Regions from separate parts of the Homo sapiens genome. Here regions 1, 3, 4, 5 and 6 are each linked to region 2. The links come from fine-mapping of genetic effects on gene expression. A gene starts in region 2. Each other region holds a variant in brackets. All regions are shown on one strand. Distances are from middle to middle. Region 1 has its middle 25 kb from the start of L1TD1. Region 2 holds the start of PATJ (PATJ crumbs cell polarity complex component). Region 3 overlaps PATJ (PATJ crumbs cell polarity complex component). Region 4 overlaps PATJ (PATJ crumbs cell polarity complex component). Region 5 overlaps PATJ (PATJ crumbs cell polarity complex component). Region 6 overlaps PATJ (PATJ crumbs cell polarity complex component).

Evidence for each region. PIP is the estimated chance that this variant, and not a neighbour inherited with it, causes the effect. A credible set is the group of variants that fine-mapping cannot tell apart.
Region 1: its variant is the best candidate, but not a certain one, in a credible set for the expression of PATJ in lung (TOPMed, PIP 0.58).
Region 3: its variant is the best candidate, but not a certain one, in a credible set for the expression of PATJ in testis (GTEx, PIP 0.62).
Region 4: its variant is the best candidate, but not a certain one, in a credible set for the expression of PATJ in whole blood (INTERVAL, PIP 0.77).
Region 5: its variant is the best candidate, but not a certain one, in a credible set for the expression of PATJ in T cells (TOPMed, PIP 0.90).
Region 6: its variant is the best candidate, but not a certain one, in a credible set for the expression of PATJ in blood mononuclear cells (TOPMed, PIP 0.69).

The regions. Positions count from the first base shown.
Region 1 is chr1:62,167,344-62,172,367 of GRCh38, forward strand. No RefSeq gene overlaps it. Among named protein-coding and RNA genes, the nearest start is that of L1TD1, 25 kb to the right of the region's middle. The variant T/C (reference allele first, on the strand shown) is at 2,066.
Region 2 is chr1:61,740,305-61,745,328 of GRCh38, forward strand. PATJ (PATJ crumbs cell polarity complex component) reads left to right here and starts at 2,176. Exons shown (of 44, transcript NM_001350145.3): 1 at 2,176-2,251. PATJ-DT (PATJ divergent transcript) reads right to left here and starts at 2,480. Exons shown (of 1, transcript NR_185910.1): 1 at 1,694-2,480. RefSeq lists a silencer at 1,928-2,637.
Region 3 is chr1:62,051,787-62,056,810 of GRCh38, forward strand. All of the region lies in intron 31 of PATJ (PATJ crumbs cell polarity complex component), which reads left to right. Among named protein-coding and RNA genes, the nearest start is that of MIR3116-1, 24 kb to the right of the region's middle. The variant G/A (reference allele first, on the strand shown) is at 2,378.
Region 4 is chr1:61,873,729-61,878,752 of GRCh38, forward strand. PATJ (PATJ crumbs cell polarity complex component) reads left to right here. Exons shown (of 44, transcript NM_001350145.3): 21 at 1,515-1,638. Among named protein-coding and RNA genes, the nearest start is that of MIR12132, 30 kb to the left of the region's middle. The variant G/A (reference allele first, on the strand shown) is at 2,464.
Region 5 is chr1:62,132,807-62,137,830 of GRCh38, forward strand. All of the region lies in intron 41 of PATJ (PATJ crumbs cell polarity complex component), which reads left to right. Among named protein-coding and RNA genes, the nearest start is that of MIR3116-2, 56 kb to the left of the region's middle. The variant T/C (reference allele first, on the strand shown) is at 2,438.
Region 6 is chr1:62,124,893-62,129,916 of GRCh38, forward strand. PATJ (PATJ crumbs cell polarity complex component) reads left to right here. Exons shown (of 44, transcript NM_001350145.3): 40 at 3,080-3,202; 41 at 3,949-4,053. Among named protein-coding and RNA genes, the nearest start is that of MIR3116-2, 49 kb to the left of the region's middle. The variant T/C (reference allele first, on the strand shown) is at 2,445.

The DNA of each region.
Region 1 (5,024 bases), 430 kb after region 2:
CCCAGCCCGTCTTCCATGTCTTTTCATGACTTGATAGCTGATTTCTTTTTAGCACTGAGTTATACTCCGTTGTGTGGATGTACCACAGTTTATCCATTTACCTACTAAAGAACATTTTGGTTGCTTCCAAGTTTTGGCAATTAGGAATAAAGCCACTATAAACATGTGTGTGCACAGCCTGAATTTGTAAGTTTATTTCAGTTTTCCCTCAACACAACCACAAGATTTGGTTCCACAATACAAGCACAAGATTTAAAAAAGATTAAAATAAAGAGTAGAAGAAAACAAACAAATGAAAAAAGGACACATCTTTTGGATGTAGACAAAGAAGACCTAGTCTATCCACTCACCGTATATCTCCACATCCTGGGAAGAATTTCCAAGGCCAGGCACTCTGGATACCCTCCCCCCTCATGGTTTAAACCTTCTTCTTCTCTAGATAGACATAGTTGATGACAGATGAGGTGTTTCAATGGCTCCTCCTGCCTAATGGCTTTACTGGGCATGCCCCCAGCATTACTCTCCCAGGAGAACAGAAGAAACGGTAATGTCTTAAAGGGACTCCATCATTCAACTCCTCTCAACCCCAGAGCCATGTGTTACTCTTTGGGGAACTTCAGGATAGCTGTCTGAAAACAGTCCAGGGAGGCTAAAGTGGAGGATCACTTGAACCCAGGAGTTCGAGATCAGCTAGGGCAACATAGTGAGACCTGATCTCCACAAAAAGTAAATTAGGCTGGGCTCAGTAGCTCACATGTGTAATCCCAACACTTTGGGAGACTGAGGTGGACGGATTGCTTGAGCACAGGAGTTTGAGACCAGCTTAGGCAACATGGCAAGACCCTGTCTCTACAAAAAACACAAAAATGAGCTGGGCCTGGTGGCACACCTGTAGTCCCAGCTACTCCGGAGGCTAAGGTGGTAGAATCACCTCAGCCCAGGGATATTGAGGCTGCAGTGAGCCTTGATCGTGCACTACAGCCTGGGTGACACAGTAAGGCCCCTATCTGAAAAATAATAAATTACTTAAAAAATCAGCCTGGCACAGTGGCACGCACCTGCAGCCCCACCTACTTTGGAGGCTGAGGTGAGAGGATCGCTTGAGCCTGGAAGTCGAGGCTGCAGTAAGCGATGATCACACACTGCACTCCAGCCTGGGCAACAGAGTGAGACCCTGTTCCTCCTCTCCCACTCCCCCCAAAAAGAAAAGAAACATACTCCAGTGGCCCCCATGCCATGAGGAATAAGATTCACCTGTTCTTAAAGACTGAGAGCAGAAACTTCCTGTCCAACATTGTATTAGTTAGTGTTCTCCAGAGAAACTGAACCGAGAGGATTTGTATGTATTCAGAAAGATTTATCATAAGGAATTAGCTTTTGCAGTTACGGATGTGGGCAAGTCCAAAATCTACACTGTGGGCCAGCAGGCTCAAGACCCAGAAGATAATTTTCTGTGAAGAATGTTTCACAGCTGGGCATGGTGGCACGTGCCCGAAGTCCCAGCTACTCCAGAGGCTGAGGGTGGGAGGATCACTTGAGCCCAGGAGGCAGAAGCTGCAGTGATCTGAGATGGCGCCACTGTACCCCAGCCTGGGAGAAAGATCGAGACCCTATCTCAACAACAAACAAAGCAAACAAAAAAAGGAACATTGATCTCATCCAAAAACACCCTCCAAATTCACAGATCAAGCATCAGACATCATGAGACCTTGAACAGACCCCTCTAGGGACGGCCTTGCCTTAGGGAAAGTGCAGAAGTGTCCACTATCCTTGTTTACAACCCCTTTCCAGCCTCCCGCCCCCTCTGGTGTCCACAACTGTGGTGCAGTCACCATCATCACTTCTACCATCCCAGAACCCTCAGGAGCAGATGGCTTGAGATCTTGCCTCTGCCACCCCACCACCCAAGGACCCTAAGTATTTGTATACCTAATTAGGTGGCTTCTCAGTGGACTCAGGGTCAAGTCTAAACTCAGCATGGATGTTAGGCTCTTCATAATTTAGCTTCCACCTTAACCTCCAGCAGTCGTGTTAACTCTCGTCTCACTAAGCACTTATCCCAGGA[T/C]AAGCCGGACTCTCACACCCTTAGGCCTTTGCGCACACTATCCATTGGCATAGACAGCACTGCTGCTCAAGATGTGACTGCAGACCACCATCATCAGCATCACCTAGGAGAGGTGCAAATGTATGCCCTAGCCTAGACCAACTGCATCAGAATCTCTGGGGTAGGGCCAAAAAATCTGAGTTTTAACAAGCTCTTCTGGTGATTCTAAACACTAAACTTTGAAAGCCTGGAGAACACTCCCCTTTTTTTCCAGTCTGTGGTCATTCACAAATTGCCGAGTTCTTTTCTGCCTCCAGTGGCTAAAGGCAGAAAGAAACACAAGGCTCCTTCCTTGCTGCCTTGCCACTGGAGGTATTTTACCTGTTAGAACCAGTCTCAGACTGAGTCTGCACCTGTACGAACTTTTTTTTTTTCTTGAGACAGGGTCTCACTCTATTGCTTGGGCTGGAGTGCAGTGGCGCGATCATGGCTCACCACAGCCTTGACCTCCCAGGCTTAGGTGATCCTCCCACCTCAGCCTCCCCAGTAGCTGGAACTACAAGTGCATGCCACCACACCCACCAAATTTTTTGTACTTTTAGTAGAGACAGGATTTCGCCATGTTGCTCAGGCTGGTCTTGAACTCCTGGGCTCCAGTGATCTTCCTACATCAGCCTCCCAAAGTGCTGGGATTACAGGCGTGAGCCAGCACACCCAGACTGAACTTCTTTCTTTTTTTTTTATTAAAACAGGGTCTCACTCTGCCACCCAGGCTAGTGTGCAGTGGTGAGACTAGGATTCATTGCACCCTCGACCTCCTTGGCTCAAATAACACTCCTGCCTCAGCCTGCTGAGTAGCTAGGACTACAGGTACACACCACCACAGTGGGCTTTTTAAAATTTTTTGTAGAGACGAGGTCTTACTATGTTGCTCAGGCTGGTCTAAAACTCCTGGCCTCAAGCGATCCTCCCACTCAACCTCCCAAAGTGCCAGGATTACAGTTATGAGCCACCATGCCCAGGTGTATGAACATTTGTTAGCAGACAGGTACAACACACAGCCCCACCTGTCCAAAAAGCACAAACCTGACAGGGTGCGGTGGCTCATGCCTGTAATCTCAGCACTTTGGGGCCGAGGCGGGTGGATCACTTGAGGTCAGGAGTTTCAGACCCGCCAGGCCAACATGGTGAAACCTCGTCTGTACTAAAAATACAAAAATTAGCCGGGCTTGGGGGCGCCTGTAAATCCCAGCTATTCGGGAAGCTGAGGCAGGAGGATCTTGAACCCGGAAGGCAGAGGTTCCAGTGAGCTGAGATTGCACCACTGCACTCCAGCCTGGATGACAGAGTGAGACTCGGTCTCAAAAAAAAAAAAAAGAAATAGCACAAACCTGCTGCTCTTTTTAGGGCAGTGGTTCTTAACCTGGGCTATTCATTCAAATCACCTGGGGATATTTTAAAGGCTCAATGCCCAAGCACACCCCAGAGTAGGGGGAGAAAGGGAGAAATCTAAGAACCGGTATTTTTTTTTTTAAAGCTCCTCAAGGAGTTACAGGAAATTTCACTCCCAGGCAAACAACATTCAGACTTGAAGGGGTGGCCAGTCCCTCCACACCTGTGGGTATTTCTAGTTGGGTGGGACGAGAGACTGAGAAAAGTAAGACACAGAGTCAAAGTATAGAGAAAGAAAAGTGAGCCCAGGGGACCGGCGCTCAGCATACCAAAGACCTGCACCGGCACCGGTCTCTGAGTTCCCTCAGTTTTTATTGATTATTATTTTCACTATCTCAGCAAGAAGAATGTGGTAGGAGAGCAGGGTGATAATAGGGAGAAGGTCAGCAACAAAACATGTGAGCAGAAGAATCTGTGTCATAATTAAGTTCAAAGGGAGGTACTATGCCTGGATGTGCAAGTAGGCTAGATTGATGTTTCCCTCTGCCCAAACATCTCAGTGGAGTAAAGAATAACAAAGCAGCATTGCTGCCAACATGTCTCGCTTCCCGCCATAGGGTGGTTTTTCTCCTATCTCAGAATTGAACAAATGTACCATCGGGTTTTATACCGAGACATTCAGTTCCCAGGGAAAAGGCAGGAGACAGTGGCCTTCCTCTATCTCAACTATAAGAGGCTTTCCTCTTTTACTAATCCACCTCAGCACAGACCCTTTACGAGTGTCGGGCTGGGGGATGGTCAGATCTTTCTCATCCCACGAGGCCATATTTCAGACTATCACATGGGGAGAAACCTTGGACAATACCCAACCTTCCAGGGCAGAGGTCTCTGCGGCTTTCCGCAGTGCATTGTGCCCCTGGTTTATCGAGACTAGAGAATGGCGATGACTTTTACCAAGCATACTGCTTGTAAACATTTTGTTAACAAGGCACATTCTGCACAGCCCTAGATCCCTTAAACCTTGATTTCATACAACACAGGTTTTTGTGAGCTTAAGGTTGGGGCAAAGTTACAGATTAACAGCATCTCAGGGCAAAGCAATTGTTCAGGGTAAGGTCAAAATGAAATTTCTTATATCTTCCCTTTCTACATAGACACACTAACAGTCTGATCTCTCTTTTCCCTATAAGACCTTTTTGCTTTTTTTTTTTTTTTTTTTGAGATGGAGTCTTTCGCTCTTGTTGCCTACGCTGAAGTGCAATGGCACGACTTCTGCTCACTGCAACCTCCGCCTCCTGGGTTCAAGCGATTCTCCTGCCTCAGCCTCCCGAGTAGCTGGGATTACAGGCATGCACCACCATGCCCGGCTAATTTTGTATTTTTAGTAGAGATAGGGTTTCTCCATGTTGGTCAGGCTGGTCTCGAACTCCCGACCTCAGGGGCCTCAGCCTCCCAAAGTGCTGGGATTACAGGCGTGAGCCACCAGCACCTGGCCCAATATTCAGATTTTCTATCCCATCAGATAACCAACTAACTCTTCCGGAAGAGATGAGACCTTGAGAGAGGGAATGCAGAGCTGAGAATTCCA
Region 2 (5,024 bases):
CACAGGTTTGTAGGCCAGGTGCAGTGGCTCACGCCTGTAATCCCAGCACTTTTGGAGGCTGAGGCGGGTGGATCACGAGGTCAGGAGTTTGAGACCAGCCTGGCCAACGTGGTGAAACCCCATGTCTACTAAAAATACAAAAAATTAGCCGGGTGTGGTGGCTGGCACCTGTAATCCCAGCTACTCAGGAGGCTGAGGCAGGAGAATGGCTTGAACAGGGAGGCAGAGGTTGCAGTGAGCTGACTGTGCCACTGCACTCCAGCCTGGGCAACAGAGCGAGACTCTGTCTCAAAACAACAACAACAACAAAAAAACCAGGTTTGTTACATAGACAAATTGTAGGCCATGGGGTTTGATATACAGATTATTTCATCACCCAGGCAATAAGTATAGTACCTGATAGGTAGTTTTTCAATCCTCTCCCTTTTCCCACTCAATCTCCAACTTTATTTTGCCCCCGACTTGGAAAGCCTTTCCTTCTCCATTTTACCTAAATTAATCTCAGACTCTGGTTAAGACCTGTTTAAGTTCTAACCCATGCTTTCAAAAAACATAATAGATCTCTTCATTTTCTGAGGTCTGGCTTCCATCTGGCAATTTGCCTGTTATTTCCCTCAGTAGTTTGTTAGTTCCTAAAAAGCAGAAACCATGCTGATATTGTGTGTCTTCTTACCATGACTAACAAGTGTTACATTTCTTTTAAAACAAGGAAGCAAACTACAAAGCACCAAGTGCATGATCTTAATTTTATTTATTTATTTATTTATTTGAGATGGAGTCTTGCTCTGTCGCCCAGGCTGGTCTTGAACCCCTGGGCTCAAGTGATCCTCCGACTTCAGCCCCACAGAGTAGCTGGGACTACAAGCTCACGGCACCACTCCGGGCTAATTGTTGTTGTTGTTGTTGTTGTTGTTTTTGAGGCGGGGTCTCTCTCTGTCACCCAGGCTGGAGTGCAGTGGCAGGATCTTGGCTCACTGCAACCTCTGCCTCCTGGGTTCAAGTGATTCTCCTGCCTCAGCCTCCTGCGTAGAGGGGACTACGCATCCACCACACCCGGCTAATTTTTGTATTTGTAGTAGAGACGGGGTTTCATCATATTGGTCAGGCTGGTCTCGAACTCCTGACCTCGGGTGATCCACCCGCCTCGGCCTTCCAAAGTACTGGGATTACAAGCGTGAGCCACCGCGCCCCGCCTGAAAGTCTTTATGTTGTAGTTGTTTTGTATCTATTCCTCATCTTCCTGGGGACAGGGATACCATTTTACACATCTTCCCACAATCAATCACAGTGTTTAACAATTACTGTATGTACTCTATGAATAAGATACCTGAAGATTGATTCTCTTTATCGTTAATGTGTGGACTGTATCAGGCAAAGTAAAACCCCTATCATCAAAAGCCTAAAGTTATTAAAGGGAGTGGAAGAAGGCTATCGGGACATATTTTTCTCGAAGGTGTGACATCACAAATAAAAGAAAATTAACGTATAGTGAAATCATCACTGTAGTTAGAGTCAAAATGCCTTGCCTGTGTTCCAAACTTTGGGCCAGTCAACCTACAGGGTGCACGGTTTCCTCATTAGTTTCTTCAGAGAGTAAATGAGACATTGCATAAGCTAGCACCTAGCATACAGCAGGCAAATACTGCTGGATTTCTTTCTTCCACTAAATGAGAAGAAAATAATGACTCCCACATTTACACGTTTTAGAATATTTTATTTTGCGTCAGCGAATAGAGAAAACAAAGGAGGGATGAGAGAACAGGAAAGGAAAGGGGCAAAAAGACAAAGTGTTAAGCGGATTGACCCAACGCTTTCATCGATATCCTCCTCAATTTCCTTGATCTTGGGTCTCGCTCTACACGCAGGCCTCCAACCACACCGGTCTGTCCGGATCTCCCTCCCCGTCAGTGGCGGCTGTCCCCACCACGCGCGGTCTGATCCGCCACCCCGCCCCCACAGCCCACTTTTCCCAGGCCCTTGGCCATCCCGCGCCCGGTAGGAATTCACCTGCACGTAAACAGCCAGGGCAACCGTCCTCCCTCCTTGGAGCCCGCCTCCCGCGGCCCCGGGCTCCCTCCCCCGCCCCCTGCGCCACCCCGGTGCCCCGCCCCGGGCGGGGAGAGTCGGGGCGAGGGGAGGGCCTGCCAGGTGAGGCGCGGTCACCCTGGGCCTCTCACTTCCGCCCAGGTGAGGCAGGGCCGACACCGAGCCCGCCCGACCCGGGCTCCCACCTGCTCCTCCAGCGCACCAGGTAAAGCGTGAGGTCCCGGCTGTGCAGTGCGCGCTCGCCCCTGGGTGTCCCCGCGCCTGGAGGCCGGCCGGGGGCAGCTCCCTCGGGGCTTCCCGGGCCTGCCTGCCCTGCCCCCGCGCTCTCCCCGCCCGCCCGCCTGGAGTGGGTGGGAGCCGGAGGTGGAGGGCGCCGCCGGGCGCTCAGAGGGGCCGCGGCGAGGATGGGGCGCCCGCGGCGTGCGTCCGCGCTGACCCGGGAGGCGGGGCGGGGGCGCCGTCCTCCTGCGTCGGGCCCGGGTGACCCCACGGTGGTCCCCGCCCCGCCGCGCAGGGCTCGCCGAGGCCGCGGGCAGGGAGGGGCGCCGCCCCGCCTCCCCAGGCCTTTCGGGCCTCGAATCTCGGCCCACTGGTATTCGGGGGTGGCACGGATCCTATTTTGCGCCCAGATCGGTGCCCCTGTTTCGCTCCCAGAGCTGGGCGGAGTCTTTCCCTCCATCGGTGGCCGTGGAAGGAGGGAACGGGGTGAGGGGACAAAGAGGAGGGGGTGCTCAGAGCCGGGCTGAGGGGGCGACTTGGGCCCGGCCGCGTCGCGGCGCCTGGTCATCCCGTAGCGGAGGTTCCCAAGCCAGCGGTCAGGCCCTGGGCTCTGCCAGCCTTGCTGCGTAGATGGGGAGGTTCTGTCGGAAAGTGCTTCCAGCCTTAGGGGAAATTCCTGGACTCCTGCTTTTAAATCAAGCTCAGGAAAGCATTTTCAGATCACTCCCACTCTCCAAAGCGCCCCAGCCGTCCCGCACGCAGGCCGAATTAAGTGAACACCCCTTCACTTGGCACTTTGTCATATTTCCAAGTGGCTCTTGTCACTTTGAATTCCAGTTGGTTGTTTACTGGCTTGCCTCTGCCATTTAGAGGGTGCCCCTTTCAGGGCCTTATTTTTCGACTGCATTTAGGGTCTGGCTATTGGTAGGTGCGCGACAAGTGTTTCTTAAAGGAAGGCAGAAGCCTTTGGAAACCCAGAAGGACAATGTCGGTTCCACTGAGGATGATACTACCACATTCTGGGCTAAATTCCTATTGGCTGCAAATTAATTTGCACACATCTATTTGAAAGGAGTGGAGGCAGGGGCAGCGGTTAAAAACTTAAATCTGTTTGCAGCATTAGAAAATGTTAGGTGAGATTGAGCCTTTTAGCTAAAGTGAGCTTTGATGTTTTTAGGGCCCCTAATGGCCTTTAAGATGTTAACAATAACAACAACAACAAAACACTCCAAATGTGTTGAATTTATTTGGGAATGAGAAATGAGCGTTATAGCCCGAGGTGCACAGGCCTGGCAAGCCATATATGCATGGAAGAGGGGAGGGTAAAAGGAAACTTTTATTGGCAAAGTAAGTGCAGATAAGCTGCGTGAAAACAGAGTTTATTGGTTTTGCAGACTGAAAGCCAGAGTTGGCCATTGTTGAAGATGCCATTACTGGGCAGGTGTTATGGAGAGCATCTTATCAGGCCTGGCAACCTGCCTCATGCCTGTTATCTCAGCTACTTAGGAGGCTTAGGCAGGAGGATCGCTTGAGGCCAAGAGTTGGAGACCAGCCTGAGCAACATGGCTGTCTTTACAGAAAAAGCTTTTTAAATAGTCAGGTGTGTCGGGAGGTTGAGGCAGGGGAATTGCTTGAGCCCAGGAGATGGAGGCTGTGGTGAGTGGTGTTTGCACCACTACACTCCAGCCTGGGTGACAGAGCAAGAACCCTGTCTCAAAAAAAAAAAAAAAAAAAAAAGGAAAAAAGATTATCTTATCTTATCTTATCTGAATTACTGCATTCCTAAAGAAAGAATTTCTTGGGTGGTTATTTTAGTTCCTTCTTGAGACCGATCTTTATCTCAGACTTGCAAGCATGAGCTTTCTCCCTCAGGCTCTCTAGTTTGTTTGGGTTTGACAAAAAGTGATTTTGACCTGGTATCTGCAACTTTCACAAAGATAATAACAAAGTTAATAAATATGGAAATACTTATGGATAGAACTTATAAAATGAGTTCTGAAGAGATTTGCCCTTACTAGTCCAGATCCTATTAGGAGTAAGAGAAAAAACACAAACTTTTTCCTCTGCTCTCACACCACTACAGTCAACACTGAGGACTTCTGTGACCAAATAAATGTGTGGGCCCATCAGTTCTGCATCAAGCAATAGCTGAGCATCTAACAGTTCGATTCTGAAACTATTTACCTGGGGATAGTGTCAGATCCCATAAGACTGCCCTCACTTCTGATGCCAATCACAAGTCCTAGATTGTTTTACCCCGGCTTCTGACTAACCACCTATAAATTGGGAATCCCATAACTCCCTCCTCTGGGTTGGTTAACTTGCTAGAGCAGCTCACGGAACTCAAGAAAACACTTATTTAGGTTTATTACTAGTTTATTATTAAGAATATTACAGAGGATACAAGAGGAAGAGATGCACAGGGTGAGGTATGAGAAGGGGCATGCCACCCTCCAGGAACCTCCATGTGTTCAGATATTGAGAAGCTCTCCCTACCCCATCTTCTTGGGCTTTTTATGGAGACTTCATTGAGTAGACATAATTGAAGCATGGGGTAGGGAAACCCAGCAATGCCTATCTGTTCAGATTTTTCTTGGCCTCTCTCTGTAGCATTCCTTCCTCCAGGGTATGGGCAGGACCCCTTCTTATGGGGGTCTTATGACCTACAATCAGACAAGGGAGATCAGATAATTTTTTTAAATATTTATTTATTTATTTATTTTGAGACAGAGTCTTGCTCCGCTGCCCAGGCTGGAGTG
Region 3 (5,024 bases), 310 kb after region 2:
GCAGTTTTAGAGAACTCTTTCTCCTTATGTACCCTAATGTTTGATATTTTGTTATTTAATAGTTATTGAACATTTGTTGCATATCAGACACTGTGCTGTGTTCTGCATGCATTTCCTGTTCTTTGATTTTCCTACACGTGAGGAAACTGAGAGTTAGAGAAGTTAACTAACTTGCCAAAGGCCCCCAGCCAGTATGTGATAGGCTGGGAGATGGCTGCCCTACCCTCTGACTCCCATGCCTTGGCTCATCATCTGCTTTTCTGTTTTGTAGCCCAGCACTTCCAGGGTTAGACTACAAATTCTAGAAGAAATGTAGGCTTTTTTCCCCTCTGTGTTTAAAAATGTCCTACAAATCTCAAAGAATTAATCACTTAGGAGTGTCATCTAACTCTGATTTTATGACAGCCCAGAGTTGTTCATTTTACTTCAGGGCATTTGAGAAATCATCCATTTATCCTCTTTCAGGTTTTGGAAAATATATCTTGCGACTGCCACAGATTGCATATCCTAGAAAGTGAGCTTATTCTGGCTGAAGGGAAAGAATGTTTCAGCAAGAGTGGAAATTGTAATGGGCCACTCATGAATAAACCCTACATGGGACCTGAGACCCCTGGCATGAAGAGTACTAGCAGTTTATTTACCAGAGATTGACTAAAAAAAAAAAAAAAAAAATGACCGGGCACAGTGACTCAAGCCTATAATCCCAGCACTTTGGGAGGCCAAGGCGGGCAGATCACCTGAAGTCAGGAGTTCAAGACCAGCCTGACCAACATGGAGAAACCCCGTCTCTACTGAAAATACAAAAATTAGCTGGGCGTGGTGGTGCATGACTCTAATCCCAGCTACTCGGGAGGCCGAGGCAGGAGAATCGCTTGAACCCAGGGGGAGGCAGAGGTTGCGGTGAGCCAAGATCACGCCATTGCACTCCAGTTTGGGCAACAAGAGTGAACCTCCGTCTCAAAAAAAAAAAAGAAAAAAGAATAATGGCAGTAAAAAATTATGATTTCCCTTTCCAAAAGGTAGAGTGCATTTTTGCACTACAGGGAAATGAGGAACAGCAACAAATTTCAAACCGAAAGCCCCTTTACTTAAAAATATGTTAACTTGTTCTGTTTGGCACTATATCTCCATAGTCAGGTTAGGGGAAAGTCTTTTAAAGCAACAGAATTTTGTAGGTAGGCATCCCCAATTTCATCCACAGAGGAAATGGTAAAAAGAGTGAGAATACTCTCTTGCTTGCTGGAAGAATCTGGTAGTCCCAGCCAGGCTCATGTGCAGGCCAAAGGTAAAAGCCATCCATCATCCACTCCCAGTTCCCAAGTAAGCAACACCAGTGACAGGGCTGCAGGTGTCAAGACAGTTGAAGAGGCAGAGGGCCTGGAGGCCTGAGGGTCATTTTTAGATAATGTTTCATACTGCACTTCACCAACAATTGAAGGCTTTCCCATACCCATTGACTAGTGTCTGTCTTTTTCCACTCTGTTCCCTTCCTTACCCACCATCTGTCCTTTTGGTTCTGGAGTTTCTTAATCACTGTTTGCAGTAGAATCTCTGCATGTTCTAGTTCAGAAAGGAAAGATAGCCTGAATTTGGACAACTTTTATAGCATAAATATAAATGGCCTGGCATAAAGTATTATTTAAGAGTGTCTGGCCGGGCACAGTGGCTCACGCCTGTAATCCCAGCACTGTGGGAGGCCAAGACAGGAGGATCACCTGAGGTTGGGAGTTCAAGACCAGCCTGACCAACATGGAGAAACCCCGTCTCTACTAAAAATACAAAATTAGCCAGGCATGATGGCGCATGCCTGTAATCCCAGCTACTTGGGAGGCTGAGGCAGGAGAATCGCTTGAACCTGGGAGATGGAGGTTGCAGTGAGCCGAGATCGCGCCATTGCACTCTAGCCTGGGCAAGAAGAGCGAAATTCCGTCTAAAAAAAAAAAAGTGTCTTGAAGAAGTCACTTGACCTCACCAAACCTCAGTTTCCTCAGCTGAGGAATGACGGTAATTAGGATGCTATTAGGAAACAAAGGGGCTATAAAATATAAATCACACAGAAGAATATAGGGCAAATAGAGCTTAGTAAATTCATTTCATTCATTCAACAAATATTTGCCAAATACCACTATGTTCCAGGTACTGAAGATACCGCAGTGAACAAAATGTACAAAAATGCCTTCCCTCATGGACTCATTCCACAGTTGGAGGGGGAAGGAAGATAGACAGTACATCAATTAGCAAAATGTTGGATTGAATCATATGAAATTGCCATTTTGGTAGGTAAAAATTTCATATGGTTCAACCTAACATATACATAAATGTCATTGTCTTGTAATGAAGTATTAATTCAAGACAAGCCTAGTTCCAGACCAGCCTA[G/A]GCAACATTGTGGGCCCCATTTTTATTTAAAAAAAAAAAAAAAGAAGAAATTAGCTGAGTGTGGTGACAAGCACCTGTAGTCTCAGCTACTCAAGAGGCTGAAGTGGGAGGATTACTTGGACCTGGGAGGTTGAGGTGGCAGTAAGCTGTGATTGTGCCACTGCACTCCAGCCTGGGTGACAGAGTGAAACCCTGTGTCCAAAAAAAAAAAAGTTATTTTCAGAGCTGAGGCTAAGCCGTGGCCTATGCATACTCCAGTGCTATTTTCAGTATATTCAGTTGGTTGGCTTTGGACTGTGTCTCAGTAGCCCTAGATGCATAGCCAAGGAGTTTATAATAATTTCAGAAGGTATTCCATTTCTTTAAAATATTTTTAAAGGGGGAAATAACTTTTTTGTAGATCAGTTGATGGTTTGTGAAACATAGATTCTGATTGTGAGAGACTGGAGGCAGGGAAGTGTCTGGTATCTATTTCAGAAGTCTAGATGAGAGCCTGTTAGAAGCCTTTTGAAAAGAACTTGAATGAAAGTACTTGCACAGAGCTTTCCAATTTGCAAAACAGTTTCATCTATAATCTCATTGGCTTAATTTTTTTAATATTTAAGTTTTTTCGCGGGGTACGGTGATTCATGCCTATAATCCCAGCACTTTGGGATGCCGAGGCGGGGAGATCAAGAGGTCAAGAGATCGAGACCAGCCTGGCCAACATGGTGAAACCCCATCTCTACGAAAAATACAAAAATTAGCTGGGCATGGTGGCGGGTGCCTGTAGTCCCAGCTACTTGGGAGGCTGAGGCAGGAGAATCGCTTGAATCTGGGAGGCGGAGGTTGCAGTGAGCTGAGATCGCACCATTGCACTCCAGCCTGGCAACAGAGCGAGACTGTGTCTCAAAAAAAAGAAAAAAAAATTTAAGTTTTTTTCTAAAATGGTGTTTAGTTGGTTTGTGATCTTAATCTTATCCCCAAAATAACCATATGTAAAGAGAAGGAGAAGAATTATTTATCCCAGATTTATAGATGAGACTTTATCTGCTCAGTGTAAGATCAAAAAACTGGAAATTGGGAGAAGTGGAACTCATTCAGAAAGCCTCATGATGTCCTGGTAGCTTGCTGACATCGGAGCTCAAGATCCCTAAAATAATTACTTTAATCTTTTGGGTATAAACTTGTGTGCTTATAATGTTCAGAATATCTATGTTCATATAATATGCTCTTTTGAAGTGGTATAATTAAATTAGTAAGAGTGCAATCACTGGAGCTAGACTACTTGGGTTCAAATCCTGGTTCCGCTATTCGCTAACAATTATAACCTTAGAGAAATGACTTAACCTCTCTGTGATTCAGTTTATGCCTCTGTAAAATGGGAGGAAAAATTAAATGAGTTGATAACAGTAAAGTACTACTTAATCCATACCAGAGTGCGCTGTAGTCACTGTCAAAGAGTGAATTGTTGTTAATGAGGATGATGCTGTCATTCTGATTAAAGCATTAAGGGGTAGCCATAGAAGGAACAACTATTCCAAGTGAAGCATTAAGATATAACTTGAAAAATTGAAGTGACTTTTTCAACCTGAAAAGCACAATTACTAATGTATTAGGGTTCTCCGAAGAGACAGAACCAATAGGATATATGGATATCTGAGAAGGGATTTATTAAGGGAATCGTCTCACGTGTTATGGAGCCTGAGAGGTCCCACAATAGGCTGTCTGCAAACTGGAGAACCAGGGGAGCCAGGAGCAAATTCAGTTAAAGTGTGAAGACCTGAGAACCAGGGGGCTGCTGATAAAAGCTCTGCAGTCCAAAGGCTGGAGAACATGGAGTTCTGATGTCCAGGGGCAGGAGAAAATGGTGTCCCAGCTTCAGAAAAGAGCGAATTCACCTTTCCTCTGCCTTTTTGTTCTACCTGGCCCTCCGCCAATTGGATGGTGCCTTGCCCAAACTGGATGAGGGTAGGTCTTCCTTGCTTGGTCCACTGCTTCAAATGCCCATCATTTCTGGAAACACCCTTCCAGACACACCCAGAAATAGTGTTTTACCAGCTAGCTAGATATCCCTTAATCCACTCAGATGGATACCTAAAGTTCACCATCATAGTTAATATATTATTCTAAGCTCTTTAACACATGCTAACTTATTCACATAACAATAGTAGTTATATAGTAGTATCATTTCCATGTAAGAGATAAAGCACTGAAATGTTAAATAAATTGCCTTGGAGCCAAGCACAGTGGCTCCAGTTTGTAATCCCAGCTACTCAGGAGGCTGAAGTGGGAGGATTAATTGAGGCCAGGAGTTTGAGGCTGCAGTGAGCTATGACCACGCCCCTGCACCCCAGCCTGGGTGACAGAGTAAGACCTTATCTCAAAAAAAAAAGTTGTGGCCGAGGCTGGTGGATCACCTGAGGTCAGGACTTCGAGACCAACCTGGCCAACATGGCGAAACCCCGTTCCTATTAAAAATACAAAAATTGGCTGGGCGTGGTGTTGGATGCCTGTAATCCCAGCTACTTGGGAGGCTGAGGTAGGAGAATCACTTGAACCCCAGGGGCGGAGGTTGCAGTGAGCCAATATCACACCACTTTACTCCAGCCTGAGTGAAAGAGCAAAACTCCATCTCAAAAATAAAAAATCACCCATTGAAGCCAGG
Region 4 (5,024 bases), 130 kb after region 2:
ACAAGTGTTTACACCACATGTTTTGTACAGATAAGGGAACCTGCACAGGGAGTTTGCCTAGGCATGCCCACAGCAGGCTGGAGACCCATGCACTGGGGGGAATGGGGTGGAGCCACCAGGAATTTGTGTCTTATGCAGGGGAGGAGCCTGGCCTCTTCAGCTGCTGTGGGGTGGCCCAGGTATTCAATTTGGGATGTGAAAATCTGCTTGCGGGACCCCCTCTCTTTGCTGAGAGCTTTCTTTTTGCTTAAAAATTCCACCCTCCTCACTCTTCAGTGTGTCCGTGTGCCTAATTCTTCCTGATCATGAGACAAGAACCCAGATTAGCTGAGTTAAGGAGCAAAAATTCTGCATCAGTGAGGGCCCCCTTTCTGGTTCATAAATGTCATCCTTTAGCTGTGTCCTCACAGGGTGGAAGAGTGGAATGAGCTCCCTTGGGCCTATTTTATTTATTTATTTATTTATTTATTTATTTATTTATTTATTTATTTTTGAGACAGTGTCTCTCTGTCACTCAGGCTAGAGTGCAATGGCCTGTTCTCAGCTCACTGCAACTTCTGCCTCCCAGATTCAAGTGGTTCTCCTCAGCCTCCCAAGTAGCTGGGATTACAGCCATGCACCACCATGCCTGGCTAATTTTTGTATTTTTAGTAGAGACAGGGTTTCCCCATGTTGGCTGGGCTGGTCTCAAATGCCTGGTTCAAGTGATCCACCTGCCTTGGCCTCCCAAAGTGTTGGGATTACAGGTGTGAGCCACCACACCCAGCCCCTTGGGCCTATTTTATAAAGGCACTACTAATCCCATTCACCAGGGCTCTGCCCTCATAACTCTATCACCCCACAAAAGTCCCCACTTCTAAATATCTTCACCTTGGGGGTTAGGATTTTAACATATGAATTTGCAGGGTCAGGGGAAACATAAATATTTTAGCATTCTGGAAGATTGTGACTTTGGAAAACCATAAAAAACATGTATATAAAAGCAAGATGGGAGGAAAATGCAGTTAAGTTATCAACAGCACTTATCTGTAGGTTTTAGGTTTTAGGTTTGATAACTTAGGTATTCACCAGGCAGATAAGAGTGCTAACAAACGCTTATAGATATGAAAATTTATCACATATTTTGGAGTCAGCAAGGAAGCTATTTATTTGTAGATATCAGAGCAACACAATCCAGGAGGCTGTGTGTATCAGCAGTTGACCTTGCTTGACTTGATAGATCTTTTATTCCTCTACCTTGGTAAATGTTTATTTAAATCCACTTATTAATGCTTATAAAACAGTTTTTTTGGTTAAAAATCCAAGTTTTAGAATAAACAGATTTTGTTAGCCTATACTCTTGCAGATATTGTTACCAGCATTTGTTACTGCTTACCACAGTATAAACCATTACTTGAGAATGCCTGTTTGCAAGGCCAGTTTTCCACTATCATTATTACTTGGCTTGATCAACTGTACAGTAATACATTTTTTTCATAAAGTACTAATGCATTTCTATTTTTCTTCCTCTCAAGATGAAAGAAAATTTTGTCATGGAGTCCCTACCATCTGTACCATCAACTGAAGGAAACAGTCAACAAGGCAGATTTGACGACCTGGAAAATCTTAATTCATTAGCAAAAACTAGTCTGGATTTAGGTTTGTGACTTTTGTTTCTCATAAACACAAATTACATTATTTTGCAAGCTTTCAGTTTTATGTTTGTATACATGAATTTCACCGTCATATTTTTATTCATTATGATGCTTTGAATTTATGTCTGCTTAATAATTAATCTGCTTCAGAATTACCTGAAAGAATAAACATGCCTCAGATTTCAACTTAGAGTTTTCAGATTCTGTTTTTTGAGAAGGCTACATTTTCTCTGCCTCATGTTGCATTTTATTAGCAGTATGGATTGAAACTCAGACTAGAACCTTACACCAAATCTGAAATAAGTCTCTACTAATATATATTAAAATCTCTGATGCTCTTAAGTAATATTGCTAGCTCATTTAATGGGACTGTTAAATATTAATAAAGAGAGGCATATTTTAAACATTTATGAAACATTTTTATAGCCATATATTACAGTCAATTTTAGTACATTAATAACTTAGTTTCCATTAAAGAATTCTAAAAGTATAGTGCCTCTCCCTGCTGCCCCTCAATATCGATTCTTATATATGTTTGAAAAGTTGACTTTAAAAAAGAATTTTTCTTCATCTAACACTAAAATATTGAATGTCATTATAAAATTGACATCCCTAGGGAGATTGTTAAATGCTTTCATAGCACTGGGATTTATAGAGCCATTGTTGAGGATTTATGCTGTCCTTCACTTGTTATGACTACTTAAAAGTCTTTCTCTGTGTTGTATAGTAATATGTTGTAAGGGGAGAGAGGGCTGTAGAAAGTGATGTAACAGTTTTATATGAGATTAGGATTCTATTAAGTAAATTCTAAAAAATGGAATACTTAAGG[G/A]TAAAAATTGAAGGCGTCTCTGAGATGATAACATACAGTTTCCTGTGGGTCAAAACAGAGCATGGAAAAAAAAAGACAGAGTATGAATACTTAATTTTAAATATCTAAGATTAGATGAATCTACCCAAGTTTTCAAGATCATGACTAGAAGAAAAATGGGACTTCCCAAAATAAAACTCTCCAGGTATATTGCTTTCTAAAATTCACCACATTTCTTATAGTTCTCTATTAAATAGTTGGAGAAGATTTATAGCACAAATGTTTGAGTAAATGAATAAATAGACCATATCTGTTTCATTACTATTAATACTGTAGCAAACTTAGCACGATTTTGGACCAGATGAGTCTTTTGGTGGGGGTGGGGTATCCTGTGCATTGTAGGATGCTTAGCAGCGTCCCTGTCTTCTAACCCTAGATGCCAGTGGCACACCCTCTCCCAGTAATGATGAAAATCAAAATGTCTCCAGATGTGGCCACATGTATACTGTATAAACCACTGGTTTATACTGTCAAGATCAAAAGAAATAGACTAGCTATATGGGCTGGTGTTTGGGTGGAGGAGCAGTGGAATAAGAGGCAATCTTAGATTTATCTGCAGAACAATGAATTTAGAAATCATTGTTGAGAACCCCTGTGTAAAGAGATATTCTTGACCTTTTGGTTAATCCAAAATTGTGTATCTTTGAAAAGCATATACTCTTCATGGGTTATAAAACTAAGCATTTAAATTTGCATAATTAATAATGTAATTATTGACATTATTGCATTGAGTAATACACTTAGTGTTACAAGATTTTGGAAGATTTCAGACAGAAGGCAGTTCTGTTTCCCAGGCTTTGCTCGAAGACTGGGTTGTGCCATTTGCAAATCCAAATTGATTTTGTGTTATTGTCAAGACTCAGTGCACATGCTTACTTGCAGGCCTGTCTCTTAACTACACACTAAGCTTCAGGAGGGTGAGGACTGTATCTGATTATATTCACATAGTAGGTGCTCAAGAAATATTTACTGAATGAGGAAATGATGTACTGCTCACGTGGTTATTCAACAGCATATCAGTTCATTACTTTTTTTTTTTTCAGTTGCTAAGTTGTATAGTAACCCGATCTCTTCTCTACTTTGGATTCTGCTTGCCTTTATTTTGTTATTCCATTCTTGCATCTCATCAAATGTAGACCTTTAGAAAATTTCCTCCATTCCTCTCCTATAAGCATTAACTTCTGATATGGTTTGGCTCTGTGTCCCCACTCAAATCTCATGTTGAATCATAATTCCTAGTATTGGGGAAGGGACTTGGTAGGAGGTGATTTTATCATGAGAGCAGATTTCCTCCATCTGTTCTCATGATAGTGAGTGAATTTTCAAGAGATCTGATGGTTTAAAAGTGTGTGGCACTTCCCCCTTTGCGCATGCTTTCTCTCCTACTGCCATATGAAGACATGCGTGCTTCCCCTTCACTCTTCTGCCATGATTGTAAGTTTCCTGAGGCCTTCCTAGCCATGCCTCTCGTACAGCCTGTGGAACTGTGAGTCAATTAAACATGTTTTCTTTATAAATTACCCAGTCTCCGGTAGTTCTTTATGGCAGTGTGAGAGTGGATTAATACAACTTAAATCCTAGAGCATTTATTTTTTAAAAATCTCCCTGTTTTTCTAACCTCTGTACCCCTGTTATGACCATTACCTGATTACAGAGGCCCTACAGGACTCAATCTTTTTCATGGGCTCCTGGGTTTCTCTGTGCACTTGGTGGACAGCTCTGTAAAGTGTAACTGCGTGAAGCGCTGTGACAGGTTAGAAATGTGTGCCTGTGCACTGACAGGGTCCATGGAGGAGGCAGTGGGGCAGAGGGCACAGGTAGCCTTTGTGTGGAGCAATTCATGAAGTTTTAAACTGCACCAACCTATGCAACTTAGTGGTGTAGTTTAACAGACTGCTTTTTCCAGTGTAGCTGGATGGGACATAGAGAACCAGTTTCCTGTTCTGAAAACTCTGGTTTTAAGCCATTCCTGCCTGAGCACCAGTCCTGCCCTGGTCCTTCCTCCTCAGTGTCCTCAGTGAGGGGGAGGCAGACATCAGCAAAGCTGGAACAGTGGGGCAGTGCTTTGATTGTCATATGGGAATGGAGGCCCTCAAGGATGGGAGCAAAGGGGAGTATGGGGATGGGGGAAAGGTAACTGAGACTTCCGTTAATCCCACCTGAGCATGACAGTATTTTCACCCCATATCTGCAACATTGCCAACTGATTGGACCCTGATTCCAAAGTTTCTAGATGAAATAAAAAGCAGAAGTGGTAGTGAGTTTACCAGAAAATTTGTTCAAGATGAATGCATGGAAAGAGTTTCAGTGATGATTATAGGAAAAGTTTTAGGCTGGGTGTGGTGGCTCACACCTGCAATTCTAGCACTTTGGGAGGCCAAGGCAGGAGGATCACTTGAGTCCAGGAGTTCGAGACCAGCCTGGGCAACATAGGGAGACCCCATCTCTATTTAAAAAAAAAAAAAAAGTTTTAAAAGAGTATCTACATTGCTTAGTCAGAGGTCATTTATGATTTTCTACTA
Region 5 (5,024 bases), 390 kb after region 2:
GGTGGGAGGATTGCTTGAGCCCGGGGGGCAGAGGTTGCAGTGAGCCAAGATCGTGCCACTGCACTCCGGCCTGGATGACAGTGAGACCCTGTCTCAAAATTAAAAAAAAAAAATTACATAAGTAAGTGAATAGGTGTGATTTTTTTTTAATTGAGGTAAAAAGTTGTTGGAAAGTATTAGAACTACAGAGGATTGAGTAGATTTTTAAAACACAGGAAACAAGTAGAACTTAGAAATGATGTAACAGTTAAGTGGAAGAGTTTGGCGAGCTAAATTTTCATCTCTTAGAGTAGGGAGTCAGTGGACACCAAGATAGTACATTTCAAAATAGGCATATAAGAATATTATTTAGCTTATTCTTTAGAATTAAAAAGAGAAAAGTTCAATGTGCTTCTAGGGAGGGCAAGTGTTGAATTTTTTTTATCATGTACTGTACTATTTCATTTTTTATTATGTACACACAAAAAAGAAATATTTAGAAAAAATAGAATATGGCCAGGCGTGGTGGCTCATACCTGTAATCCCAGCATTTTGGGAGGCCAAGGCAGGTGGATCACCTGAGGTCAGGAGTTTGAGACCAGCCTGGCCAACATGGTGAAATCCCATCTCTACTGAAAATACAAAAATTAGCCGGGTGTGTTGGCACATGCCTGTAGTCCCAGCTACTTGGGAGGCTGAGGCAGGAGAACAGCTTGAACCCGGAGAGTAGAGGTTGCAGTAGCCGAGATTGCACCACTGCTGTCCAGCCTAGTCGAGAGTGAGACACCGTCTCGAGAAAAAAGAATAGAAAAGAACCAAGAATATAGGTCTGTTTGAAAAGCAGCTAAACAGATTTGAGTAGAATGGTGCTTCTCAAACTTTAGCACGCTCTGGAAACACCTGGAGGGCTCCCCCAGCCTTTCTGATTTTGCAGGAGTGGAGTGGGATTCAAGAATTTGCTTTTTTTTTTTTTTTTTTTGAGACAGAGTTGCGCTCTGAAGCCCAGGCTGGAGTGCAGTGGCACAATCTCGGCTCCACTGAGCCTCCACCTCCTGGGTTCAAGCAATTCTCCTGCATCAGCCTCCCCAGTAGCTGGGACCACAGGCACCCACCACCATGCCCGGCTAATTTTTGTATTTTAGTAGAGACAGGGTTTCACCATGTTGGCCAGGCTGGTCTCAAACTCCTGACCTCAGGTGATCCGCCTGCCTTGGCCTCCCACAGTGCTGAGATTACAGGTGTGAGCCACCGTGCCCAGCCAATTTTGCATTTCTTCTAACAAGCTCCTAGGTATTGGTGATGCTGCTAATTCAGATCCCATGCCTCAGACCCAGTGGAGTAGAGCATTATTTAGGGATGAAAAAGGTCTCCCCACGTTATTCTCTTCATCTGAAACACCCTTCTCACCGTACTCTCGTCTTTTTTTTTTTTTTTTTTTAAGAGAGAGACAAGGTCTCATTATTGGCCTGCACTCAAGAGACTGTCCCACCTCAGCCTCCCAAAGTGCTGGGATTACAGGTGTGAGCCATCGCACCCAGCCCTCTCTTTTTTTTTTTTTTTTTTTCTTTTTACTTTTTGAGACTGAGTTTTGCTCTTGTTGCCCAGGCTGGAGTGCAATGGCGTGATCCTGGCTCGCTGCAACTTCCATCTCCCAGGTTCAAGCGATTCTCCTGCCTCAGCCTCCCGAGTAGCTGGGATTACAGGCATGTGCCACCACGCCCAGCTAATTTTGTATTTTTAGTAGAGACGGGGTTTCACCATGTTGGTCAGCCTGGTCTCAAACTCCTGACCTTAGGTGATCCGCCCGCCTCAGCCTCCCAAAGTGCTGGGATTACTGGTGTGAGCCACCACGCCCGGCCTCTTTTCTTTATAAATATTGGAAAATCCTTTGTTTAGAAACTCTCCATCGAAGAATAGGGAGTGCCTGGGTGTTGATGTCCTTCCAGACCATGGTTCTCCAAAGCTGGAGAAATCTGTGTCTGTGCCTCGGGCGCAGGCCTCGCCCAGAGCAGATACCTCCTCAGTGCTGCCCACATGGAGTTGCTGAGCCATTCCAATCAAGCTGAAGGACATGAACTAATAGGGGAACAAATCAGCACAGTTACCAATGTAGTCCAGAAAAATTCCAGGAGGGGAGGAAGACGGATGGCTTACCCAGGGTTGGAAATGGAAAAGGTGTGTCATTGAGGGTGCAGAGCAGGCGCGTCATGGCCTATGTGAGTATCACTAAAGGAATGATCTGCTATTAGGTCTTTACCTTAGTTGCATAATAAAATCACTGATTTTAATACCTGTTCCTGGGCCCCACCCCAGAGGTTCAGATTTAATTTTTCTGGGATATGGCATGGACATCAGATGATTTTAAAATTTCTCAGGTGATTCTAATATGCAGCCAGGGGTAAGAAAAGTAGTCTCCAGGGTTTGCAAATAAAAAGCCAACTAATGCTTAGGCCAGGTG[T/C]GGTGGCTCACGCCTGTAATCCCAGCACTTTGGGAGGCCGAGGTGGGGGGGATCGCTTCAGGTCAGGAGTTCAAGACCAGCCTGGCCAACGTGGTGAAACCCCCTCTACTAAAAATACAAAAATAAGCCAGGCATGGTAATGCATACCTGTAATCCCAGCTACTCAGGAGGCTGAGGCAGGAGAATTGCTTGAACTCGGGAGGCAGAGGTTGCAATGAGATGAGATCGCGCCACTGCACTCCATCCTGGGTGACAGAGCGAGACTCCGTCTCAAAAAAAAAAAAAAAAAAAAAAAGCCAAATTAATGCCATGAAGACAGTGATAAACTGCAGGAAAAGGACAAAGACCCAAGGTTTGAAAGTTGAAATGAACACCTAGCCCAAGTTAGGTAGGAGAGGTAGGCTGTAGTGTCAGAAAGTCGTGAGTTTGAATCCTTTTACTAAAGTCTCACCTTCTATTCCTCTAAAACAGGGACTGTGGAGCTCCTTTCTTAAAAAGGTTGCTCTGAGGATTAGATGAAGTGTGATGTAAAGTGTCTAATAAATACAGGATGTTGCAAATGATAAATACTAAGTGGTATCTTATTACTTTCATTGTACTAACATAGGCTTGAAGTTAGAGGATACTAAAATTCCTTTATAAAATCCTGGAAGTGGAGTGGTTTTCCAGGTGGCATTTGAGGTGTGTGCCACTAGGTGGCAATGTGGCTGGAAGTCAGTTTGCCCTTTTCGAATTTTACTCCAAGTGCTTCACACTTCTTCAGACCATTAGATTTTTTTTTTTTTTTTTTTTTTTTTTTTTGAGACAGAGTTTCGCTCTTGTTACCCAGACTGGAATGCAATGGTGCAATCTCAGCTCACTGCAACCTCTGCCTCCTGGGTTTAAGCAATTCTCCTGCCTCAGCCTCCTGAGTAGCTGAGCTGGGATTACAGGCTCACACCGCCACGCCCGGCTAATTTTGTGTTTTTTGTAGAGATGGGGTTTCTCCATGTTGGTCAGGCTGGTTTTGAACTCCTGACCTCAAGTGATCCGCCCATCTCGGCCTCCCAAAGTGCTGGGATTACAGGTGTGAGCCGCCACGCCCAGCCCGATCATTAAATTTTTAACAGACACATAAAAATCAATATATTCTGGTGTCACTAAAATCAGGGTCACTAGATTCTGGACAAAAACTTTAAGCAGCTGTGCTTTCTATTTCAGTAAGTTACACCAAAGGCCAGGCATGGGCTTTTCTTGTGTGTGTGTGTGTGTGTGTGTGTTTTTCTGTAATGTGTCCCCATCTTAAGATGCCAGCTTTCTCAGGGATCACCTTAACTTTACAGCCTTCCTGTTTGTTTTCAACATGTGTGCACCCATAGTTTGAGGGTCCAGCTGCATGTAAGTGCTGAGGATTTTTATGTTTTGCGTGTGTGTGTGTGTGTCTGTGTGTGTGTGTGTGTGTGTGTGTGTCTGTGTGTGTGTGTGGTGTGTTGTTTTTTTGAGACAGGGTCTCACTCTGTCCCCCAGGCTGGAGTGCAGTGGCACAATCATGGCTCACAGCAGCCTTGATCTGCCAGGCTCAAGCAATCCTCCAACCTCAGCCTCCCAAAGTGCTGGGATTACAGGCATGAGCCGCCACACCCAGCCAGTGCTAAATTTCAGATTTGGTACTGAAAGGCTTGGGTCCTAATAAGTCTAAGGGCTAATCATCTTCTTTCGCAGGAACCTTTAGGAGAGTTCTAAGCAAGGAGCTCAAGCTTTTATGCATTGTAATATCTTTCTTATCTGGAAATTATTTTGACTTCTCAATTCTCCAAAACATAATACCTAAACCTGTTTTTAAAGAAAGATACTCAACCTAGGTCCATGCAGTAAAGACCTCTACTTTATTACTCATTTCGAAAGCTTAATAAATACACAATATTTCACTGTAGAACATATAGTTCTAATTAAGTTTAATGTTCCTTTTACCCTAAGTTATTAAATGCAACATGGAGGCAAAGCACAAGAGAGTACATGAAAATAAATATCTTCTTAAAGGAAAACAGTGGGGAAGGTGGCACAAATTAAGGAAATTCACATCAGAGGGAGAACCCTGTTGGAGAAACAGTGAGGGGGAAACCCATTGGCAGAAGGAAACATGGAATAAGTGAGTTTCGTCGGAGGGGGGAACATAGAATGAGGGGGAACAGCAGCCTGAGGGGTAAATGCCTCTGGAGGGGGGAACACAGAGTGAGGGGGCACAGCAGCCTGAGGGGGAAATGCCTCTGGAGGGGGGAACACAGAGTGAGGGGGCACAGCAGTCTGAGGGGGAAATGCCTCTGGAGGGGGGAACACAGAGTGAGGGGGGACAGAGGCCTGAGGGGGAAATGCCTCCGGAGGGGGGGACACAGAGTGAGGGGGGACAGAGGCCTGAGGGGGAAATACCTCTGGAGGGGGGAACACAGAATGAGGGGGGATAGCAGTTTGTGGGGGGAACACAGATTGAGAGGGAAGCAGGCTTGTCTGTTCTTCCACAGATGCAAACGTCTCTAACTGTTCCGTAGGCGCAGAGGACAAGGCTGCAGCCTCCCCGTCCTCTGGTGGGAGGATTTCTTCCTGCTTTTTC
Region 6 (5,024 bases), 380 kb after region 2:
TTCAACATGTGAATCTTAGGGGGACCCAATTCAGCCTGTACATTAGCTGTACAGCTGGGTGCGGTGGCTCATACCTGTAATCCCAGCATTGTGGGAGGCCGAGGTGGGAGGATCACTGAGCCCAGGAGTTTGAGACCAGCCTGGGCAACATGGGGAAACTCCGTCTCTACAAATAATTTCTTTTAAAATTAGACAGGCGTGGTGGTGCATGCCTGTGGTTCCAGCTCCCAGCTATTTGGGAGGCTGAAGTGGGAAGATCGCTTGAGCTCAGGAGGTTGAGGCTGCAGTGAGCCGTGATCATGCCACTGCACTCCAGCCTGGGTGACAGAGTAAAACCCTGTCTCAAAAAAAAAAAAAAAAACAAAAAAAAACAAAAAAAAAACGCCATTAGCTCTATAATAGTTAGCAACTCAACCTCAATTTTCTCATCTGTAGAATGGGGGTGATAACACTAACTCACCTCAAAGGTAAATATTATTGTGTGGATTACATGAGGTCATGAATGTAATGTCTTTAGCATAGCACCTAGTGCATCAGGAATGCCCAGGAAGTGGCTTCTGTTGTTATTAGCTACAGCTTTGACTAAATCTGCCTTATTTGTTCCCGGTATTTTTCCACCAGAGTAGCAACTCAAATGTTCCTATGATGGGGAAGTTAAATGTACCAACAGTATATATAATTATAGATAAATTAAGGAAACATCATGATGGATTTAAACAAAGCCAAAACATTATTGCATAAATTTCTCCTCTAAGATTTCAAAAATAATATTCTTTTATATTTCCTTAGTCATTTCAGCCACTTGTTTTTACAGGCTTTTGTAATAAAGCCTGCTCCTACCTACCCTATTCTACCACACGTGATCCAAGCATAAATTTCTTTCTTTTTTTTTCCTGAGACAGAGTCTCACTCTGTTACCCAGGCTGGAGTGCAGTGGTGCAATCTCGGCTCACTGAAACCTCCACCTCCCAGGTTCAAGTCATTCTCCTCCCTCAGCCTCCCAGGTAATTGGGATTACAGGTGCGTGCCACCACATCCAGCTAATTTTTTGTATTTTCAGTAGAGACAGGGTTTCGCCATGCTGGCCTGGCTGGTCTCAAACTCCTGACCTCGAGTGTTCCACCCACCTCATCCTCCCAAAATGCTGGGATTACAGGAGTGAGCCACCACACCCAGCCTCTAAACTTCTGCTATGCTGGTTTGGGTCTGTCTCACACATAAGCAGCCTGAGAGTTCTGTGGGTTCACAAACAGAATTGAGGATTCGTTTTCTTCAGCTTCCTCTTCTCTGCTTTTCTTCTCTTTCCCTCTTTCTTGATTCTTCTGCCCAGAAGGATGGAATTTCTATCTGAATGTTAGCATTCACCGTACCTTTCCAGCTCCTTGACTGGGAATCACCTTCAGGGTACAGCTGCCAGGAAAAAAAATAAAACTGGGAACTTCCCCTGCTGCTGCCATTTCTCCAAGTTTTGACTCTCCACCATACTTTATTTGGTTTCTTTTTGTTTCAGAGGCCACAGGTAGTTGTTTTTTACATTTTGACTAGACATCTTGATTGTAACCAGCAGGAGAGATACGCTGTCACGTGCCTGTGCTGCCATGCCAGAACTGGAACTTGTCATTTGTTCTTTTAGTGATTTTAAAAATATTAACCCTATGATACTAATGTGGGGAAAAAACTGGACTAGAGCCAAGTCTCTTCACCAGAGTCCGTCTTGGGGAACATTTTCAGCCACATTTTATGTCTGTCTTCAAACTGTTGTCACTACAGTGGGTGTCCTCTCAGATCCTTTGTTTTAACGCAGTCTTTTAAAGCCAAATGTGTTTGTTCACACCCAGAAGAGCATAGTATGTGTGGCAGTTTAATCATAAACACCATATGAGAACATACTTGCCAAGTCTGCATCGGAATTGGCCACTAAACTAAGGAGCTGCATAGGGTGTTGTGTGTGTGTGTGTGTGTTTAATTTACTCCTGCTATTGCCTTTTATTGAGCCTTTTCTGTAGGCCATGACAGTGCCATACTATCTCATTTAATGCTCAGACCAACACTGTCAGGTATGTAGTATTCTTCTCATTTTATACATAGAGATGGAGGCTTTAAGAGGTAGTCAGCCTAAATAACAAACAGAGAGGCTCTCTAAAGGAAAATGATGTTTATTCAGGAATGGGAATATGCGGGCCAGTTTATTCAGGAATGGGAATATGCGGGCCATAGTAGACTATGTGCATATTCAGGGAGGTAAGGAAAATAAAAGGTTTTAGAGGACAAAATGAGAAATATATAATTATTTTGAGATAATTATCCTTGGCTACAAAGATTAATAACAGGGGTGACACACAGCCCAAGGCTGGACAGGCATCTGCTGGACAGATGCACTTGTAGAAGTATTTTTTTATGAAAGGTTGTGATGTCCTTCCTGCAGGGTTGTGGTTTTTGCAGTC[T/C]TTTGTGATAATTTTTGTTATCAGGCATACAAGCCTGAGAACTCTTTCTTCATAGCCTTTCCGGGCTCTATTGGTAAGGAATTTTTTTTTTTTTTTGACACAAATGACTCCATTTTGATTCTGACAACTTTCACAAGGTTAAGTAACTTCCCCCAAGACCCCACAGCTAATTAAGAGCTAGAGCTGGGGCTGGGTAGGGTAGTTCACGTCTGTAATCCCAGCACTCTGAGAGGCCAAGGCGGGTGGATCACCTGAGGTCAGGAGTTGGAGACCTGCCTGGCCAACATGGTGAAGCCCTGTCTCTACTAAAAATACAAAAAATTAGCCAAGTGTGGTGGCGCGCACTTGTAATCCTAGCTACTCAGGAGGCTGAGGCAGGAAAATCGCTTGAACCTGGGAGGCGGAAGTTGCAGTGACCTGAGATCGTGCCATTGCACTCCAGCCTGGATAACAAGAGCGAAACTGAAAAAAAAAGAGCTAGAGCTGTCTACTCCAAAGGTTCCACATTTAACTCCTATGTTATCCTGGCCTCCTACCTCATGGAGGGATTTTGTTCCAACAGCTATCTATCTAGGGATAGTCAGTTTGTGGCTCTTTATTAAATATAAAAGCATTATGTTTTCTTCCTTTTTTAGGAGCTCAGTGATGCCCTTGGAATCAGTATTGCTGGAGGAAGAGGAAGTCCCTTAGGAGATATCCCCGTATTTATTGCCATGATTCAGGCTAGCGGAGTGGCCGCACGGACACAGAAGCTTAAAGTAAACGAGAGAACTGGTTGAAAGACTAACAATATGTGTTGGGGTGGGAGAGGAAGTTGCAGCCCTGGGCACCTTGTTTAAAGTTGGAATTCCAGTAGCCATCAGAGACCCAGGCTGAGGGCAAGATGCATTAGATAAACTTGATACCTTTAGAAATTCATTAGGTCCCCAGGCACATAAAAATATTATTATTTGTATCAAAGCTTCTCCATAAAAGAAGAAATTGCAGCCCCTTTGCAAACCCTCCTTTACCCTTTTAAGCACCTCATTCCACCCAAAATCAGCTCTCAACTGAGAGACATTTGACCTTAGAGTCTTCCCTCAATCAAAAGAATCACCATTTTTATGATTTCTCCCCCTTGTTGCCCCTTAATCTTAACTTCAGTAGAAAAATATAGCAGAAAATATTTGGCTTCCTCATTAGAACTTTATTGAACGGTTGATGTGTACACTTCGCTTTTACTGGCAAATGGTTGTATGAAACACCACCATTACCAAAATACAAAAATGGCCTACTGTGCCTTTTAATAATCAAATGTGACCCCCTTCTTGTTGCTCTGATTTGTCTGTATTTGGGGAAAGCCAAAAAAATTCCTCATGCTTCTTGAACATGCATGCACGGTAGTAACGCAGAATCCTCACAATAGCCACAAATGGGAAATAGGACTCGCAAAGAATTTTAAGCATTCTTCTCAAATTTAATTTTTCTTAATGATAGTGATTTTCTGTCATTTTTGTACTTCCAGGTTGGAGATCGGATTGTCAGCATTAACGGGCAACCTTTGGATGGGCTGTCTCACGCGGATGTGGTTAATCTGCTGAAGAACGCCTACGGGCGCATTATCCTGCAGGTATTGCGATCAACGGAGCACGCAGCTGTGCAAGGCAGATAAGTGGCATGCAAAAAAGATTGAGCGTCACTGGCAGTAGACATCGCCACCCAGCAGGGTGCTTGCTGATGTGAATTACGAAGGTTGAAAGCAAGAAATTATTATTTTTATTCAGAAATTCTTTAATGCCACCCATACAGGTAGTGAGCATGATTATATGAAAGCATAACAAGGGGAGAAAAATTACTCTCTGCTTCACATGATAAATCAACACAGCTTTTAGTTTCCAGTGTTCTTTTGTAAATCAGAATTTGTAAGGAATAAGAAATGATTTCTTTTCTTATGCCCAAAGACTGTTACTGAACTGCCCAAGTGCTGTTTCTTCTTTTCCCCTTAAAGGAAGAGGAAAAATACAATGGTCTTTTTCCTTTAGCATAGATTGCCAACACTGTTAAATTGTCACGCGTAGCAGTCATCAACCAAGGCAGACAATTGTTTATCAGCTGTGGTCCCCAGCTGTATTGTTCAGAGGCACAAGGAAATATACCAGGATGTAAAAGCAAAGTGTGCTGTTAATTACCCCTGCTTATATTTTAGCCCTTCAGATGTCTCTGAGATTGACACCATGCAGTGACTGAGAGGCAGCATACTGGCAGTGAGTTTCATTAATGAGTTTCCCCAGAAATGTATGCTTACCATAGGTCTGCAGAGGTAATATAAAGTGGTTTATAGGTGGCTAGGCGCGGTGGCCCACGCCTGTAATCCTAGCACTTTGGGAGGCTGAGGTGGGCGGATCACCTGAGGTCAGGAGTTCGAGACCAGCCTGGACAACATGGTGAAACCCCGTCTCTGCTAAAAGTACAAAAATTAGCCAGGCATGGTGGTGGGTGCCTGTAATCTCAGCTACAGGAGGATGAGGCAGGAGAATCACTTGGACCTGGGAGAAGGAGGTTGCAGTGAGCCAAGATTGCTCCACTGTACTCCAGCCTGGG